Linked DNA regions of Homo sapiens. The protein of the gene in region 3 purifies or fractionates together with the protein of the main gene of each other region. This does not show direct contact. Each region holds a gene or a part of one and is shown on either strand. Other genes may lie near its edges. The genes, in order: PLAT, KLHL17 and DCN.

Region 1 (3,653 bases), on a different chromosome or scaffold from region 3:
CCCTCCTCCTTCCCAAGCCCATCATCAGATCCTCAGGACACTGGCAGACACAGTCCGAGAAATAACCCCCACCCCAGCCCCACTGAAGCACGTTGGTTCACTGCAGCCTGTTAAGTAACACAAGGAAACCCCTACTGGCTTTCAAAGCAGCTTCAGAAACAGCCCCCACTCATGGAAGTGGTTCTTCCTGCTGAACCTGAAGATGTCCCCAGACTCTCTCTCAACATAGCAATCTAGGGAGCCACTTCCGGTGGAGATGAAACCCCCTTGCCATCTCTAAGTAAAAGGACTCAAAGAGGGGGAAAAAGGCTCAGGCCGGGCGTGTTGGCTCACACCTGTACTCCCAGCACTTTGGGAGGCTGAGGCGGGCAGATCACCTGATGTTAGGAGTTCAAGACCAGCCTGGCCAACATGGTGAAACCCTGTCTCAACTAAAAATACAAAATTAGCGTAGCATGGTGGCGCATGCCTGTAACCCCACCTACTCGGGAGGCTGAGGTAGAAGAATCGCTTGAACCCAGGAGGTGGAGATTGCAGTGAGCCAAGATCGCGCATTGCACTCCAGCCTGGGCAACAAAAGGGGAAGTGTGAGGTGTTACACTCTTCTCAGTGCCGGGCTAGCGGCCTCCAGCTTCCTCGACCGGCAGCTCCGCTTCAAGCCCCAGCCCTGACTTGCGTGCTTCAGAATTTGTTTTTGTTTCAGTTTGAGAATTCTTTTCTTCTAGGAAACAGTGACTGCTACTTTGGGAATGGGTCAGCCTACCGTGGCACGCACAGCCTCACCGAGTCGGGTGCCTCCTGCCTCCCGTGGAATTCCATGATCCTGATAGGCAAGGTTTACACAGCACAGAACCCCAGTGCCCAGGCACTGGGCCTGGGCAAACATAATTACTGCCGGTAGGTAGCACAGGGGTGGGGGGTTCAGGTCTTGGCAGAACGTGGGATTAGGGTGTGAGACGGGGGAAGATCCAATGTCTCAAGTTGCATGACAGACCCAGTGCGTGGGAAGCACCCATGGATATTATCTAATCCAACCTCTTCACTTGCTAGAATAACACATATTGTGAAAAGCAAGGTCTACCAGTTTTCCAACCTAAATCCCAAGTTAAGGGTCCTGGCCTGTAACCATTTAGTCCTCAGCTGTTCTCCTGACATCTTTATTGCAATGATTTGTAAGAGTTCCGTAACAGGACAGCTCACAGTTCTGTCTGACAACCCTATGAGATTAGAACACTACATTACTGACTGGGTAACAAAGTTAAAGAGAAGTTCTCCTAGGGTGGGGGTGTGCTGCAAGGTCAAGATGAACTCGGTGTCCTCCCTCCCAGCTCAGTGGTTTTCATTGGTTGACTGAGTCTCCTTCTACTCTTACATGGCCTGTGATGTGGCTGAAAATGGGATTGAAAATCTTAAACTCCTGGCCTGGTGTGGTGGTGCATGCCTGTAATCCCAGCACTTTGGGAGGCTGAGGCAGGAGGATTGCTTGAGCCCAGGAGTTCAAGACCAGCCTGGGCAACATGGCAAGACCCCATCTCTACAAAAATTAAAAAATAAGAAGATAAAAAGGAAACCTTAAACTCTCTTATCATTTAGGAATCCTGATGGGGATGCCAAGCCCTGGTGCCACGTGCTGAAGAACCGCAGGCTGACGTGGGAGTACTGTGATGTGCCCTCCTGCTGTAAGGGCTGGGCCCCGGCTGCCTCCCTGCACCTGGTCTCCCTTCTTCACCATCTCCTCGCCACTTTCTAGGCCTTCATGGCTGTCTGGTGCAGACTGTGTGCCTACCAGACTTCCAGGCTGGGTGGGGAGGGGGCTTCCATGACTGAAGCCACGGTGGGTGGGCGGGTGTCCATGACCCATGCATGGGGGTGGTGGGGAGGGGCAAGAAGAAAGAAAAGAACACAGCAACCTCTCTGAGAAGTCAGTAGGCTCTACCCGGCTCTCTCTAGACGCCTCTATTGGTGTTGCTGAGAGTAATGGGGAATGAGGAGGAGGCCTCGCATGCATGGCTCCTTAGATAATAAAGTGCCTTCACCACATTTGTCCAACAGCGTGGTGGAGGTGGTCTTCCTACCTCCAGTTTACTGAGTAGGAAGCAGTCTCCCAGACGCCAGGTGGCCTGCCCAAGCTCGCTGGGCACCGGGAGGTAAAGCTAGGGCCTGCCCTCATGCCCTCTGACCCCAATGGCATGTACTTCCACTGTGAGATCTTCCACGTTTCCTGTTGACCTATTTCACACAGGGGAGCTGGCTCATGATGTGGGTGAGAGATAGGAGATTCAAGTTGGTGCATATTGCTAAAAAATGAAACTTTAGTTTGGAAATGGCCAGAGAGTAGGTTATTAATCACCTCCTGTGAACACAGATCAGCCAGAATGTTCCCCAAGGAACACAAGTCCAACTGGGACGATGAGACACAGACCACCAGCTAACTCACACCCAAGGGCATTAGTGTGAGTCCTCAGTGGTCCGTGTCCCTAAGCTCCTCAGAGCTGAGCAGGTGGGGACGTCAGGAAAGCTTTGCGAGGAGGCAGGATTGCACCTGGGCCTTGAAGCATGGGTAAGGTTGGACAGATGGAAAAGAAATGAGCAGACATTCCACAGAAGGAAGCTGCAATTCTTCATTTCTTAGGCCAGGAAATGGCTGTAGGAAAACATTAGAAGGAATGAAGGATGGCAGATCCCCAGTTTTGGAGTCAAACATACTTGGGAACTAATCCAGGTGCCATTGCAACCTTGGGCAAAAACGTCTCCGCCTCCTGAAACTTATCGCTGTGGGAACTAAAGAGAATGTATGGACAACATTCGGCATGCTGATCCCACCAAGTGAAAGTTGTGGTTTTACAGCCATGCTGATGGCCTCCTCACTCTACCTACACACGTGCAGGAGGCCTGTGGGACTGACTGCCTCCTCGTCCTTTCCTCCCCAGCCACCTGCGGCCTGAGACAGTACAGCCAGCCTCAGTTTCGCATCAAAGGAGGGCTCTTCGCCGACATCGCCTCCCACCCCTGGCAGGCTGCCATCTTTGCCAAGCACAGGAGGTCGCCCGGAGAGCGGTTCCTGTGCGGGGGCATACTCATCAGCTCCTGCTGGATTCTCTCTGCCGCCCACTGCTTCCAGGAGAGGTAGGGGCTCGGAAACCCAGTTGGTTTTTCCACCCTCTAACGCCTAGAAACCAAGCCCTTTAGGGGAAATCCCACAGCAAAAAAAGCATTCTAAGGCTGTTTCTCCACCAGGTTTCCGCCCCACCACCTGACGGTGATCTTGGGCAGAACATACCGGGTGGTCCCTGGCGAGGAGGAGCAGAAATTTGAAGTCGAAAAATACATTGTCCATAAGGAATTCGATGATGACACTTACGACAATGACATTGGTAAGAGCTCGTCATTCCCGGCTCCAGTTCATACAGATCACACAACACACCCACATGCACTCACCTATGTTTACACACACGGGCCTCCTCCTCCAGCCCCTGCCCCTCCTGCGTGTTCCTCCCCTCCCGGGGACGCGGCCCTCACGCCAGCTCACTCCTCCTTTCTCCCTCCCAGCGCTGCTGCAGCTGAAATCGGATTCGTCCCGCTGTGCCCAGGAGAGCAGCGTGGTCCGCACTGTGTGCCTTCCCCCGGCGGACCTGCAGCTGCCGGACTGGACG
Region 2 (2,789 bases), on a different chromosome or scaffold from region 3:
GGGACAACGTGCCCACACATCCTGTTTCCATCTAAACTCTGGCCGGCCCGAGTCACCGGTGACTGCAGGGAGGGCTGAGGCAGGAGTTCCAGCACAGGAGACGGCGGCCAAAGCCACCGCAGCCTCCCCTCCTGCCTGGGCCCCCTCGCCACAGACCCGAGTCAGGGTCCCCAAGGCTTAAGGGGACTCAGGGAGGCCACATGCCCCCTAGACGGCCAAGACAGTCAGCGCACTCGGGGGCAAGGCTGTCCTCCCCAGCCCTAACCCCAGAGCCCACGATGTGGCGGGGACCTCGGCCTCAGTACCCAGCCCAGGCAAACGCCACCCACACTGGGACGCTGGTCCACAGGAACTGCACGGCCCCCACCCTCCCTGGACGCACAGCTCTGCCTTGCAGCTCCCAGATGCCTGCGCATCTCAGGGCACCCCCCCACACCCCTCACCCTGGACCCCAGACAGGACCCAAAGTTGCGCAGCTGCCCCACATGCCAGAGAGAGATGCTCAGCCTGAGGAACCCCAGAAATGTGTTTATTAAGTTGGACTCGTATTGCTGTGTGGGGTCCCAGTGCACGCGTGTGCACCCACTACAAGATCCAGGAAAGATGGCACACGGCAGACGACGACAGGAAGGACAACTGCTCCCCACCCTTCCCGGGACCCCGCCATGTGCAAAATTCGAGCTGGGGTCTGCAGCTGCTTGGAGAGACCCAGGGCCTCTTGCTCCACAGCCTGCAAGGTCTGAGCAGGCAACGGCCCTGGGGCGGTGAGGCCCCCGCCTGGTCACTCCCCGCGCCCCCCATGCAGGCAGTGGAGGGGAGGACACGCAGGAGGACCAGACGCTAAAGGTGTAAACGGGCAGCCGTGGCACTCCTCACCCCTCAATAAATAAGATAAATAACTAAATAAATAAACAACTAAATAAAGACATGAAGGAATGGATGCAGAGACGTGAACGGATGGCGCAGGACGTCCCTGGTGGGGGCCACGGTCCCCTTAAGGCATGTGGGAGGCTGCAGGCCTCTGGTGGTAGGTGGGTCAGAGGCTGGTGGAGGACACGGACAGCGTCGGGGAGGATGGCGGCGGGAAATTGAGCAGCTCCAGCACCGCCACACCCACACTGCTGCGCCGGGTGAACATGCAGGATGCGGCCACCCACTTGTTGGTCCTCGGGTTGTACTTCTCGATGGAGTTGAGGCTGGAGCTACCGTCGTTACCCCCCACGGCGTACAACCATCCGTCCATGGCCACCAGGTCATGCGTGCTCCTGGGGGGAAGGCGGGGTGAGCCCCTGGCTGCAGGAAGGGATGCGGGGGGAGGGGCTGCACCACAAAAAGGGGTGGTGGCGGGACATGCTCGCTGAGGTTGGGAGAACTCCCTTCTCACAGCACATCCCCACTGCGGACCCGCGCCCCCCTCCCGGCAGCACATCCCCACTGCGGACCCGCGCCCCCCTCCCGGCAGCACATCCCCACTGCGGACCCGCGCCCCCCTCCCGGCAGCACATCCCCACTGCGGACCCGCGCCCCCCTCCCGGCAGCACATCCCCACTGCGGACCCGCGCCCCCCTCCCGGCAGCACATCCCCACTGCGGACCCGCGCCCCCCTCCCCGCAGCACATCCCCACTGCGGACGCGCGGACCCCTCCCACAGCCCCACTGCGGACCCGCGCCCCCCTCCCCGCAGCCCCACTGCGGACCTGCGGATATTCATGGGCGCCACGCTTTCCCAGGCTCCAGCCTTTGGACTGTATCTCTCTACCGAGTTGAGGCAGCTGGTGCCGTCGTTGCCCCCTGCCACGTACAGGGCACCCTCCAGCACGGCCACGCCCGCTGAGCTGCGTCGGCTCAGCATGGACGCCACGGGCGACCACACGTTCACCTGGGGGCGAGGGCGTGGGCTGGACGCAGACCCGCCACTGGCATCCCTCCTCTGCCGCAGCCCCGACTCCAGGGTGGGGTGTCAGGAATGGGGGGGATGTGGGTAAACAGAGGGAGGAGGGCCCCGCGGCGCACGGGAGGGGGTGGCCAGGAGGGGTGCACTATGCACCTGGGGCTCATACTTCTCCACAGTGGCCAGGTGTGAGGAGCTGTCGTAGCCGCCCACAGCATACAGGTTCCCATCTGCCGGAAGTCAACACACCCGTGGCACTCCTGCTGGGAGTGGGGTCTCCACGGTGGGGGAAGGTGGGGATGCCCCCCAGGCAGGCCCCATCACCCACCAAGCGTGGCCACTCGCACATAGCGCCTCCGGGTGCTCATGGCAGCGACGGACGTCCACGTTCCGGTCAGGGGGTCGTAGCGTTCAGCACTGTGGGCACCAGGACCGCAGCCACAGCTCAGCAGAGACAGAAAGGCGTCCCGGCCCCAGGACCTGCCCTCCCCAGCGGAATGGCTGAAATCTTACCCTAGGAGTCAAACTCAGACCGCAAAGTCCTACCAGGCAGGGCCCGCTGGTGGGCACAGGACCCTGGCTGCCTGAACAACCCTGGGTGCACACCCACCTGGGCCCAGCCTCTGGACTGGGGGTAAGGACCCGAGAGAGGAAAGGGCACTGGGGCAGCAAAGCCAAGAGTTCAGGCCCAGTGTGGCAGTGGCCTGGGGTGAAACGGCCTCGCGGATCACCTCCTTTAACACCCCATCAGATACGACCCCTGTGATGGTGACACAAACTTGCCTCTTGCAGATGGACTGTACAAAGCCACTGGGGCCCCAACCCCAACTACCTGTTCAGGCAGGAGGCCCCGTCATAGCCGCCGGCCGAGTACAGGAGTCCATGCAAGGCGGCCACA
Region 3 (3,653 bases):
TGGTGTTTGCTTTCATTTCTGCTTTCTGTTGCAGGTTGGGATTGAGTTTCAACAGCATCTCTGCTGTTGACAATGGCTCTCTGGCCAACACGCCTCATCTGAGGGAGCTTCACTTGGACAACAACAAGCTTACCAGAGTACCTGGTGGGCTGGCAGAGCATAAGTACATCCAGGTAATGCAAAGCCACTGCTTATGTGAGGAATATCCAAAAAGCAAGACCCCCACCCTGCTTATGGGATGCTGGGAAGCAGGAAGCTCTTCTTAGAAGTTTTTTTTCCAGAGTGTCTTAGTTAGAATTTCTATGACAAAATACCATAAAAAAAATTAAATCATGAAGCACAATTTACATTAGCTAGATTTCAATAAAGTTTTTGATTTAGAAGTATGGAGATGAAACTTAAAGTCTTCTGTAATGCTGATATTTTTTTCAGTAGGGGTGGTGATGTTGGTGCCATAGTGAGTAGGGGGAGTTTGAAGCCACAAGTAAAATAAAAATTCTTTTTTTTTACTGTCACTAATTTTAATTTTCAAATTATTCAAGAATTGACTGGAAAGAGCTTCTTTGGTCTAGCTCCTGATTCTTTTTGACATGGCCTCATCATTTTTCTTTATTTCCTCTAAAAAAAAAATGAGATACGTTTGCAGAATGTGCAGGTTTGTTATATAGGTATACGTGTGCCATGGTGGTTTGCTGGCCCTACTGACCCATCCTCTAAGTTCGCCCGCTCACCCCCTACCCCCTGTTGTGTGTTTTGTTACCCTCTCTGTGTCCGTGTGTTCTCAGCATTCAACTTCCATTTATGCGTGAGAACATGCAGTATTTGGTTTTCTGTTCCTGTGTTAGTTTGCTGAGGATGATGGCTTCTAGTTTCATCCATGTCCTTGTAAAGGACATGATCCCATTCCTTTTTATGGCTGCATAGTATTCCACGGTGTATATGTACCACATTTCCTTTATCCAGTCTATCATTGATGTGCATTTGGATTGGTTCCATGTTTTTGCTATTGTAAAATAGTGCTGCAATAAACATTATGTGTGCATATGTCTTTATAGTAGAATGATTTATATTTCTTTGGGTATATACCCAGTAATGGGATTGCTGGGTCAAATGGTATTTCTGGTTCTACATCCTTGAGGAATTGCTACACTGTCTTTCACAATGGTTGAACTAATTTATGCTCTCACCAACAATGTAAAAGCACTCCTATTTCTCCACAGCCTCATCAGCATCTACTGTTTCCTGACTTTTTAATAATCACCATACTGACTGGCATGAGATAATATCTCATCTCCAGCCACAGGGAATCATTAATCTATTTTATCATTTTTGTTTGTTTCATAGACCATAGTTTTGTGTAGATTCCAGGAATACTTTAACATCTAGAAATTTTATAATTTTAACTCCTGTATTTGGTTTTATAATCTAATTTTGAGATAATCCTAGTATATGATATGAGTCTAATTCATTTTCTGTATGTGATAGCAATTGTCCCAATGTCATTTGTTGGAAATAATATTCTTTCTCCAATGAATTGTCTTGTCACTGTTGAAAATCACTCGATCATAAATGTAAGGGTTTATTTCTGGACTTTCAATTCTATTACATTTATCTATATGTCTAGTCATATGACAGTATTATACCCTTCAATTACTGTAGCTTTTGATTACGTTTTGAAATTAGAAAATGTAGGTTCTCCAACTTTGTTCTTTTTTTTCAAAGTTATTTTGGCTATTCTGGTTCCTTTGCATTCCATATCAATTTTAGGATCTACTTTTTCATTTCTGGAAAAATATTCTTGTAAGGCTTTGAAAGGTATTGTTTTGAATCTACAGATCATTGGGAAGAATTACTATCTTAATAATATTGAGCCTTCCAAGTCACAAACAAGGGTTATTTATATCTTCTTTTCTTTTTCTCAACAGTTTTTGTCATTTTTAGCATACATGCCTTGCAATTCTTTTACTACATTCATTGTTTTTCATTCTTTTTGATGCTGTTTTGAATTGTTAATTTTTTTATTTGTTTGCTGCTAATGTATAAACATACAATTGATGTTTATATATTGAGCTATCCTGGTACTATGCCAAATTTGTTTTTAGTTGCAGTAATTTTTGTGAGTTCCTTTGGATATTCTATATTCAGGATATATTATTTAAAAATAGACAGCTTTAGTTATTTTATTTGGATTCTTTTAGGTCTCCCCCTCCCCCACAACCCACCCTTTGCATTGGCTGGAATCGCCAGTGCAATGTTGAACAAAGGTGATGAAATTAGACATCTTTGCCTTATTTGCTAGTTTAGGAGGAGGGAGCATTCATTTTACCATTAGTTACGATGTTAGCCACAGGTCTTCTATAGATGCTCTTTATCAAGTTGAGGAAGTTCCCTTCTATTTCTGATTTACTGAAAACATTTATTATGAATTTTTTTCTTACATGTTTTTCCTGCTTCTATTGAGATAATCATGCGAGTTTTGGCCTTTATATTTTTGATATAGTGTATTACATTGATATTACTTTGATTGATTTTCATAAGTTAAACCAATTTTACAACCCTGAGATAAATCATGTTTGGTCCTATAGCATGAAATCATTTTATATGTTGTGAAATGTAGCTTCCTAACATTTTGTGAAAGATTTTTTGTCCATATTCATAAGAGGTATTTGATTACATTTTTTTTTCTTATGATGAATTTTGTCTGGCTTTGGTCTTAGAAAATATTGACCCCATAGAATGAGTTTGGAATCTACTTTTATTTTGTTCTACACAGACTAATACTTACGTCTTGATATTTTGTTCTCTCACTTTCAATATTAACCATAAATTGCTCACCAAACACCCCTTCCTTTACTTGCTAATCACTACTGGAATATAGAGGATGGTAAATGACAACAAGAAACTTCCAAAATATGAGAACCATAAACCATACATATAAGTGTTGCTTTCACTTTAATATTCCTTGTTTCTGTTTTTATATGACATCTACTAATTCGCTTTTCAGCCCTTACAAAAACAAAGCCGTTTTCACCAGCACATGAATGTGAATGTCCTAGTGGGTAGAACAATATTTCAAATTTTTTTTTTTTTTTTTTTTTTTTTTTTGAGTCGGAGCGTCTCGCTCTGTCACCTAGGCTGGACTGCATACAATGGCACAATCTCGGCTCACTGCAACCTCCGCCTCTCGGGTTCAAGAAATTCTCCTGCCTCAGCCTCCCGAGTAGCTGGGATTACAGGCACGTGCCGCCATGCCATGCTAATTTTTGTATTTTTAGTAGAAACGGGGTTTCATCATGTTGGTGAGGCTGGTCTTGAACACCTGACCTCATGATCCATCCGCCTCGGCCTCCCAAAGTGCTGAGATTACAGACATAAGCCACCACGCCCAGGCTTTCAAGTTATGTTTTAAGGGAGTACTTCATAGGTTTTATAGCTCACTTAAGATCTTGTTGGTGGCAGGACGCAGTGGCTCATGCCAGTAATCCCAGCACTTTGGGAGGCTGAGGTGGGCGGATCACGATGTCAGGAGATCGAGACCATCCTGGCTAACATGGTGAAACCCCCTCTCTACTAAAAATACAAAAAATTAGCCGGGCGTGGTGGTGGGCGCCTGTAGTCCCAGCTACTCGGGAGGCTGAGGCAGGAGAATGGCG

Evidence for each region.
Region 1: the proteins of DCN (region 3) and PLAT purify together in Homo sapiens (affinity purification with mass spectrometry, with the first as the bait; one large-scale study listed by BioGRID). This does not show direct contact.
Region 2: the proteins of DCN (region 3) and KLHL17 purify together in Homo sapiens (affinity purification with mass spectrometry; 3 studies listed by BioGRID and IntAct, with this or other methods). This does not show direct contact.

The regions. Positions count from the first base shown.
Region 1 is NC_000008.11:42,179,963-42,183,615, reverse strand, and holds part of PLAT (tissue-type plasminogen activator isoform 1 preproprotein), read left to right. Parts: intron 1-725; coding exon 726-897; intron 898-1,593; coding exon 1,594-1,679; intron 1,680-2,930; coding exon 2,931-3,126; intron 3,127-3,237; coding exon 3,238-3,374; intron 3,375-3,549; coding exon 3,550-3,653. UniProt on the Homo sapiens protein: Converts the abundant, but inactive, zymogen plasminogen to plasmin by hydrolyzing a single Arg-Val bond in plasminogen.
Region 2 is NC_000001.11:963,439-966,227, reverse strand, and holds the end of KLHL17 (kelch-like protein 17), read right to left. Parts: coding exon 2,724-2,789; intron 2,309-2,723; coding exon 2,220-2,308; intron 2,122-2,219; coding exon 2,048-2,121; intron 1,880-2,047; coding exon 1,698-1,879; intron 1,266-1,697; coding exon 1,037-1,265; 3' UTR 509-1,036; downstream 1-508. UniProt on the Homo sapiens protein: Substrate-recognition component of some cullin-RING-based BCR (BTB-CUL3-RBX1) E3 ubiquitin-protein ligase complexes. The BCR(KLHL17) complex mediates the ubiquitination and subsequent degradation of GLUR6. May play a role in the actin-based neuronal function.
Region 3 is NC_000012.12:91,148,174-91,151,826, reverse strand, and holds part of DCN (decorin isoform a preproprotein), read left to right. Parts: intron 1-34; coding exon 35-173; intron 174-3,653. UniProt on the Homo sapiens protein: May affect the rate of fibrils formation.